Homo sapiens: one gene and its partner. The protein of the gene in region 1 interacts with the protein of each later gene in a pairwise test. Each region holds a gene or a part of one and is shown on either strand. Other genes may lie near its edges.

Region 1 (3,652 bases):
TACTCCACTGTATATATACTATCTCGCCTTCCTAAATCTGTGAAGAATTCAGAATTCTGCAGCATGTGCGGCCCAAGGTTTTGGAGACGAGTGTGGACCTGTGGTAATTGCAACAAGCACTTCACTTTGGGCTTCATGCTGAGTACTTTAGCACTTTAGCTATATTCTTCCTGGTCTGCTCAGAACAACCACTCTGAGATAGGTACTGGCAGCAGTTCCATTTCATAGGTGAGGGATGGAGGCTCTGAGATTCCGGGTAATACATGCAAAGCCAGCGAAGCTGGGTGGTGGCTCAGGTGTGTCTGTTTAAAAAGCCCATTCTAATTGCTGTGCTCCAGTCCCCACACACTTTGGTGGCGGCAAGGAGCTCTGGGGCAGGGTGTGTGGTTGAGGCTGGAAGGAAGGCAGAAAAGAACAGGCCTAGGGCCCCCGCTTGCACACATTCTTGCCTGTGCTGGTCTCAACTTTGCTGCTTCCCATGTTCCCACATGCCACTCTCTACTGAATCCCATCTCCCCGCAATTCAGAAAAAATAATAATCTGTGTTTGGTGGATTAAAACAATCTGTTCACCCGAATTCTTTTTTCTGATTCTTGAAATAATGTTGACATAGAGTAGTTCTTTCCTCGTTTTGCAAAGGGAACATAGCTGCTCAAGATCACACCACTGGTAAGTGTCTTGGGATATTAAACACATGGAATTTTAAGATTGGCAGGAGTGAATTCTTCATCTAGTCCAGTGTTTCCTAAACTTCAGTCATTTGCCTACGACTGTGATAATTTCACTCAATCCATATACTACGAGCACTATTATTTACTTAAAATACTTAAAAAAATCATCAACTCCCTTTTTGTTTTAACATAAATATGCTAATTAAAAGGAAAACTTTATATTAGCAATATAAATGGAAAGTCAGGATTTTTTAAACATACATAAAAATAAATATTTAAGCATTTGAATAAAAATGGTTCATGCGCCACCTAAATCAGGGGTTAGCAAACTACATCCTATAGGCAAAATGCAGTCCCTCACCTATTTTTGTAAAGCCTGCAGTTAAAAATAATTTTACTGCTGGGCGCAGTGGTTTACACCTGTAATCCCAGCACTTTGGGAGGCCGAGGCGGGTGGGTCACTTGAGGTCAGGAGTTCAAGACCAGCCTGGTCAACATGGTGAAACCCCCGTCTCTACTAAAAATACAAACATTAGCTGGGTGTGTTGGTGCATGCCTGCAATCCCAGCTACTCGGGAGAGTGAGACAGGAGAATCGCTTGAACCTGGGAGGCAGAGGTTGCAGTGAACCGAGATTGTGCCACTGCACTCCAGCCTGGGCGACAGAGCAAGACTATGTCTCACAAAAAAATAAAAAATAAAAAATAAAAAATAAAAAAAACTTTACATTTTTAAGTGGTTACATTTTAAGTGGTTATATAAATATTTACATCATATCCTTGATTTTGCCTTTTGGCCTGCTAATCCTAAAATACCTGGCCCTTTAAGAAAAAGTTTGCAACCCCTAACCAGATTCATCTGGCATGTTGCCAGTTGATGTGAGTACCACGTGTTGGAAGATACTGAGTTAGTCCAATTTCCCTCCTCGCCTCCACCATTTTACAGTTGAGGAAGTTGAGACTCAGGGAATTTGTGTAACTAGCTCAAGGTCACATAGCCAGTGGATGCCAGAGTTAAGTGGCAGGGAGGTCCTTAGTTTTCTGACTCTCAGCCCATCTGCTTCTCTTTCTGAAAACACAATTGAGCCCCAAGGCACACTTATATAGCAAATCAAACCTCAGTACTAAGAGGGGCAGGATTGTGTGATTCTGAAACCAAAGGTCAATTCTTTGCAGATGCTTGAAAATCTCCAACCACCATCATCATCACCATCAAATGTGCATGAGACGCCGGGTGCGGTGGTTCATGCCTGTAATCCCAGCACTTTGGAAGGCCAAGGTGGGCAGATCGCTTGAGGTCAGGAGTTCGAGACCAGCCTGGACAACATGGCGAAACCCCGTCTCCACTAAAAACACAACAATTAGCTGGGCATGGTGGTGCACACCTGTAATCCCAGCTACTCAGGAGGTTGAGGCATGAGAATCACGAACCCAGGAGGCAGAGGTTGCAGTGAGCTGAGATCGTGCCACTGCACTCCAGCCTGGGTGACAGAGTGAGACTCTGTCTCGAAAACAACAACAACAACAACAAAAACGTGCATGAGAACTCCTCTCCAGATGTAAATATATAACCGAGTTTGAATTCTGACACTTAGGCACCTTTTCTGGGCCATCACCCAAGAGTTTCCAGACTCTGCTGGGAAGTCTCTTTGCTGATGCCTGGAGAGGGTTAATGTGCTCTGCAGATTATCGTGGGCATGGATCTCCTCCTGGGAGCCCAATCAAACAGATGTCAAGGCTGCCTGGGTTTGGGCTGTGATTTTCCCACGGATTGGCTGGTTTTATATCCTGAGTGAGGGGGGCAGGGAGGGGGTAGGATGCTGAGGGATGGGGTGAGAGGTTATGAGGAAGGGAAGGGCCTCAGGAGCTGAAAGCCACTTCTGCTTTCTGGACTGGACTTCAGAAAAGTTCCTTTAAGTGAGGGCTGAAGACAAATATATCCCTTTTCTTCTGGGCCAGAAGGCTCAGAAAACTAAAGAAGAGGATGGCAGGCCTGTGATATGACCTTCTTTGGGTTGGGAGAAAGGAGAGGTGAATTCCACACGGAAGAAAACAGAAAACAGTCCCCAGGTCTTCAGTGTCAAATAAGGAATCCATCAAATACAAAACACGACAGTGGGAATGAGATCTTCCTCATCTATGCCTCACTAATTGCTCTCAAAAGTCATTGGGTATTAACAAAAAAAAAGGTCATTTGGTAAATTGAATGGCATTATATAAAAACTAGAAATATTTTTTGATCAATAGTATTTTTACCTCTTTTAATATTGTTATTCTTTCTCCTCTTTATACCGGCCTACTCACTTGATCTGTAATCTCTCTAGTGCTATACACAATGCTGTATCTGATTCCCTTTGGTAATTCCTTCTAAGGCAAATTATATCCATTAAGTTTTTGTAAAGGGCCTTCTCAGGTGTACAGCATGCTATTTTTCTTCTGTAATTATTTCTTGCTTTTGGAAAAAATATCTTTTATAAAAGCAGAAAAAGGTGTTTTTTTTTTTTTTTCCTGTTACAGCAGGAGTGGGTGTTATTAACTCTGGGCTCTCCACAAAAGACCTTGGCTACTTAGCCAGCATGCAGTAGGTGTGAGAGTTCAAGAATAATGGCTGCTTTGTATTCAGTAGCCTCTCTTCTCTAGGCCCTCTAAGGTCCTTGCAATAATTGAACATTTTAGCTCTTAAGGACTTCTTTAGTGGAGGTAGAGCAGGATAGGTGTGAAAAGGCAGATGTCCAGAGCCCCCTTTCTCAGAAGTAACACTGAGGCCCAGGGATATGTGAACACAGGCCTGAGGTTAGGCCAGGCCTGCTCAAGGGGGGTGATATTGCCCCCCTCTTTAGGGAACAAAGATGAGTTCTTGGGGATCAAAAAACTGAGTTATTAATTACAGTGTTTTATCATGCTCCAAAGGTCTACAGTAGATGTATAGTTTATCTCTGGTACTCACATTTCTGGTGGGGAGATGATTAAGAAAAAATGACCT
Region 2 (3,354 bases), on another chromosome or scaffold:
AGTAGCAGGAGGAGAGGACCCTGGCATAGTCCGACTCCCCTTCCTGAGGCCCCTGAACTACTGCTCTGTTACCTGGGGTAAACGGGCCCAGTTGCCAAGGGCAGGCGGAGGTAATGAGGGAAGAAGATGGCAGGATCAGAGAGGCAGGTCAGAAGAGAAGAAGGTGAGCACGGGAGGGAGAGCAGGAGGTGGGGTAGAGAGAGATGTGAGTCAAGTGGCTGCTGAGAGAGCCTACACTCCCAATCAGATCATTCCCTCCCCACCACTGCTCCTCCACTCCTCCTCCTCAACGTTCCTCAGTGTCTTCCATCCGGATCTTTCCCTTCCTTTCCCAGTGCCTGGAGCATTACCAGCCCTGAGCCCTGCTTGCTCCTGCCCTCTGCCTCAGTCCTGGCCAACTCCCTGCTTCTCTCTTCTCCGACACACGGCCTCCCCTGCCCTATCCCCCCTTACTCACCTGCAGCTCGGTGATGGACATGATCTCCTGCCAAGTCAGTTCCATCTCTCCTAGCTCTGAAGTGGACAGCTGTATCACCCTGTTCCTGCTCTGCTGGGGAGGACACGGGGACATCCTACTGGGCCAGAGTCTGGTCCAGGTTCCCGGAAAGCCCAGATGGCTCTAGAAACCTGTGTCAAAGGAAAAGAGGTGTTAGAGCTACACCTGCTAGGGTCAGCAAGTTTGCACTACCTCCTTGGAGGGGCTCCCTCCAGCTTCCCCTGAGGGAAGGAGAGACCGCCTCCTCCCCATCCTCACTCATGCTGGATTCATCAATCCCTTAAGATGGAAAGTCTTTTCCTGTGTTGTGATCTCCACCTCGCCAACTATGGCCACAGTCAGTTCCTTTGGTAGCACAGGAGGTCTTTACCTTTTTTCCAGGCAAAATGCCCACTCTTTTCCCTAATACTTTTTACTCCCCCAAACTGTTTTCCTGGCTAAAGGCAGAGTCAGATCTTCTGTTTTTCTGTTTTGCTGTGTTTTGTTTTCCATTTTCTAGGGCAACATCAGGGGTCACCCTGCTTTCCTCCTCTGTCCTCAGTTTTACGTTCTCAGCCTTTTCTTTCCAAGATGATGACAGTATATGCTTGAGGATCCCCAAGAACAAGTTGTGGAAAGAGGCAAGCAGACAGCCCCTCCTCCTCTCCAAGATATGGCCCAGGCCTGGTGGTTGATAGCAGCTCTGCCCTCTCCTCCTATCCTGGCCCTGGGCTCCCCTGCCTGGGCCAGATAAGAGGTTTATCAGTTGCAGGCAGCAGAGGCACAGAAGGAATGGGCTCTGGAGACACTGGACCTCTGTCCTGTGTCCTCACAGGGTCATTTGGGCCATACCTTAACCCATACAATCAGAAGTCTTTCCTCTTCTGAGGTAATATAACCTTAGTAAAGACTTAGTAAGCACTTGTTAAGAACTGTGCTGGTATTGCAAGCTTAGTTTATAAGATTGGTTTTCATCGGGCGCGGTGGCTCAGGCCTGTAATCCCAGCACTTTGGGAGGCCAAGGCAGGTGGATCACCTGAGGTCAGGAGTTCGAGACCAGCCTGGCCAACATGGAAACCCCGTCTCTACTAAAAATACAAAAATTAGCTGGGCGTGGTGGGGTGGCACATGTCTGTAGTCCCAGCTACTCGGGAAGCTGAGGCAGGAGAATCACTTGAACCCAGGAGGTGGAGGCTGCAGAGAGCCGAGATCGCGCCACTGCACTCCAGCCTGGCTGACAGAGTTAGACTATGTCTCAAAAAAAAAAAAAAAAAAAAGACTGGTTTTCACAAAGATTCTAAAGGTACATCAGAAACTGAGACTGAAGCTGATAAATAATAGCAGGATGAGGTCCAGAACCTGACTCTACCTGACTATAATGTCTTCTAGGCACCTTCCCCTCCTGCCCCTGTATCTTCATACTCCAAACCTCTACTGGAAGTCTACATTCATCAGTTCTTTCTGTGGAGTGTCAGTCTCTCTTTCTCCTTCTGGGCAATGTCTCTTTAGAGCCTTGAATATACACTGCCCTCCAGTCCCTTTTCTTTTGACCTGGGTTCTAGTTGCAGCTCTGCCACAAAGCAGCAGTGTGATGTTGGGCAAGCCATCTCACTTCTCTGGGCCTCTGTTTCCTCATTTGTAAAACCAGGGAGTTGGACAAATTGACCTTGGAGGTCCCTTTCTGCTTGGATAGCTTAGAATTCTCAGCAAACCCTCACCCGTGTCTTTATCTTCTTCTGTCAGTCCCTCTCCTCATGCTACCTCCCTATTCCCTGACACCCACCTTCCTTGCATCTGTTTTCCCTGCCGTCAGCAAGAGATTCCAAGTAGATTTGGCAAGGTCTTCCTGATCTCTACGGTCAGACATTGTGTCTATGTGCACGCACACAGACATACCGTGCCATATCAGTATAGGGAAGCAGGCTAGGATGAAGGAAACATGGGAGAGGGGAAGCACTTTGGGAGGCCAAGGTGGAAGGATTGCTTGAGCCCAGGAGTTTGAGATCAGCCTGAGAAACACGGTGAAAACCCATCTCCACTAAAAATGCAGAAATTAGCTAGGCATAATGGCACACATCTGTGGTCCCAGCTACTCAGGAGGCTGAGGTGGGAGGATCACTTGAACCTGAAAGGTCACGGCTGCAGTGAGCCATGATTGTGCCACCGCACTCGAGAGCCTGGGTGACAGAGCAAGACCCTGTCTCAAAAAAAAAAAAAAAAAAAAAAAACGGCCAGGTGCAGTGGCTCACACCTGTAATCCTAGGACTTTGGGAGGCTGAGGCAGGTGGATCACCTGAGGTCAGGAGTTCGAAACCAGCCTGGCCAACATGGTGAAACCCCCATCTCTACTAAAAATACAAGTAATAGCCAGGCTTGGTGGTGGGCGCCTGTAATCCCAGCTACTCAGGAGGCTGAGGCAGGGAGAATTGCTTGAACCCGGGAGGCGGAGGTTGCAGTGAGCTAAGATCGCACCACTGCACTCCAGCCTGGGCGACAGAGTGAGACTCTGTTTCGGAAAAAAAAAAAAAAAAAAAAAAAAAGAAAAGAAAGAAAAAGAAGGACAGAGGATAGGATTGTATGACCTCAAATTGCATGACCTTAGACCACTCACCACAAGGATGGCCCATCACAGCAATTTAATATGGAATCTTCTCTTCGACTTACCACAAAATTAGTAGGAACTACAAATGATCCTTTTGAAAGAGTATCTCCCCTAGCCCTTGCCTCCATCCCCTTGTTTTACTGCCATCCCCAGAGATGGGAGTTGGTGTAGGCAACTCTGCCAGTGGGCAGAGTGGGTGGGGTGTTTATGTCTGTCCAGGATGCCATTTCAACACCGGAACCCCACCCTCCTCCACCCAGGTTCTGGCGGAAATTGC

Evidence for each region. The genes of interacting proteins can lie anywhere in the genome.
Region 2: the proteins of ELF5 (region 1) and NFE2 interact in a two-hybrid assay, tested with the Homo sapiens proteins (one large-scale study listed by BioGRID and IntAct).

The regions. Positions count from the first base shown.
Region 1 is NC_000011.10:34,507,151-34,510,802, forward strand, and holds part of ELF5 (ETS-related transcription factor Elf-5), read right to left. Parts: intron 1-3,652. UniProt on the Homo sapiens protein: Transcriptionally activator that may play a role in regulating the later stages of keratinocytes terminal differentiation. Isoform 2 binds to DNA sequences containing the consensus nucleotide core sequence GGA[AT].
Region 2 is NC_000012.12:54,294,678-54,298,031, forward strand, and holds part of NFE2 (transcription factor NF-E2 45 kDa subunit), read right to left. Parts: intron 3,272-3,354; exon of another isoform or gene 3,087-3,271; intron 1,082-3,086; exon of another isoform or gene 867-1,081; intron 628-866; 5' UTR 572-627; coding exon 458-571; intron 177-457; exon of another isoform or gene 73-176; intron 1-72. UniProt on the Homo sapiens protein: Component of the NF-E2 complex essential for regulating erythroid and megakaryocytic maturation and differentiation. Binds to the hypersensitive site 2 (HS2) of the beta-globin control region (LCR).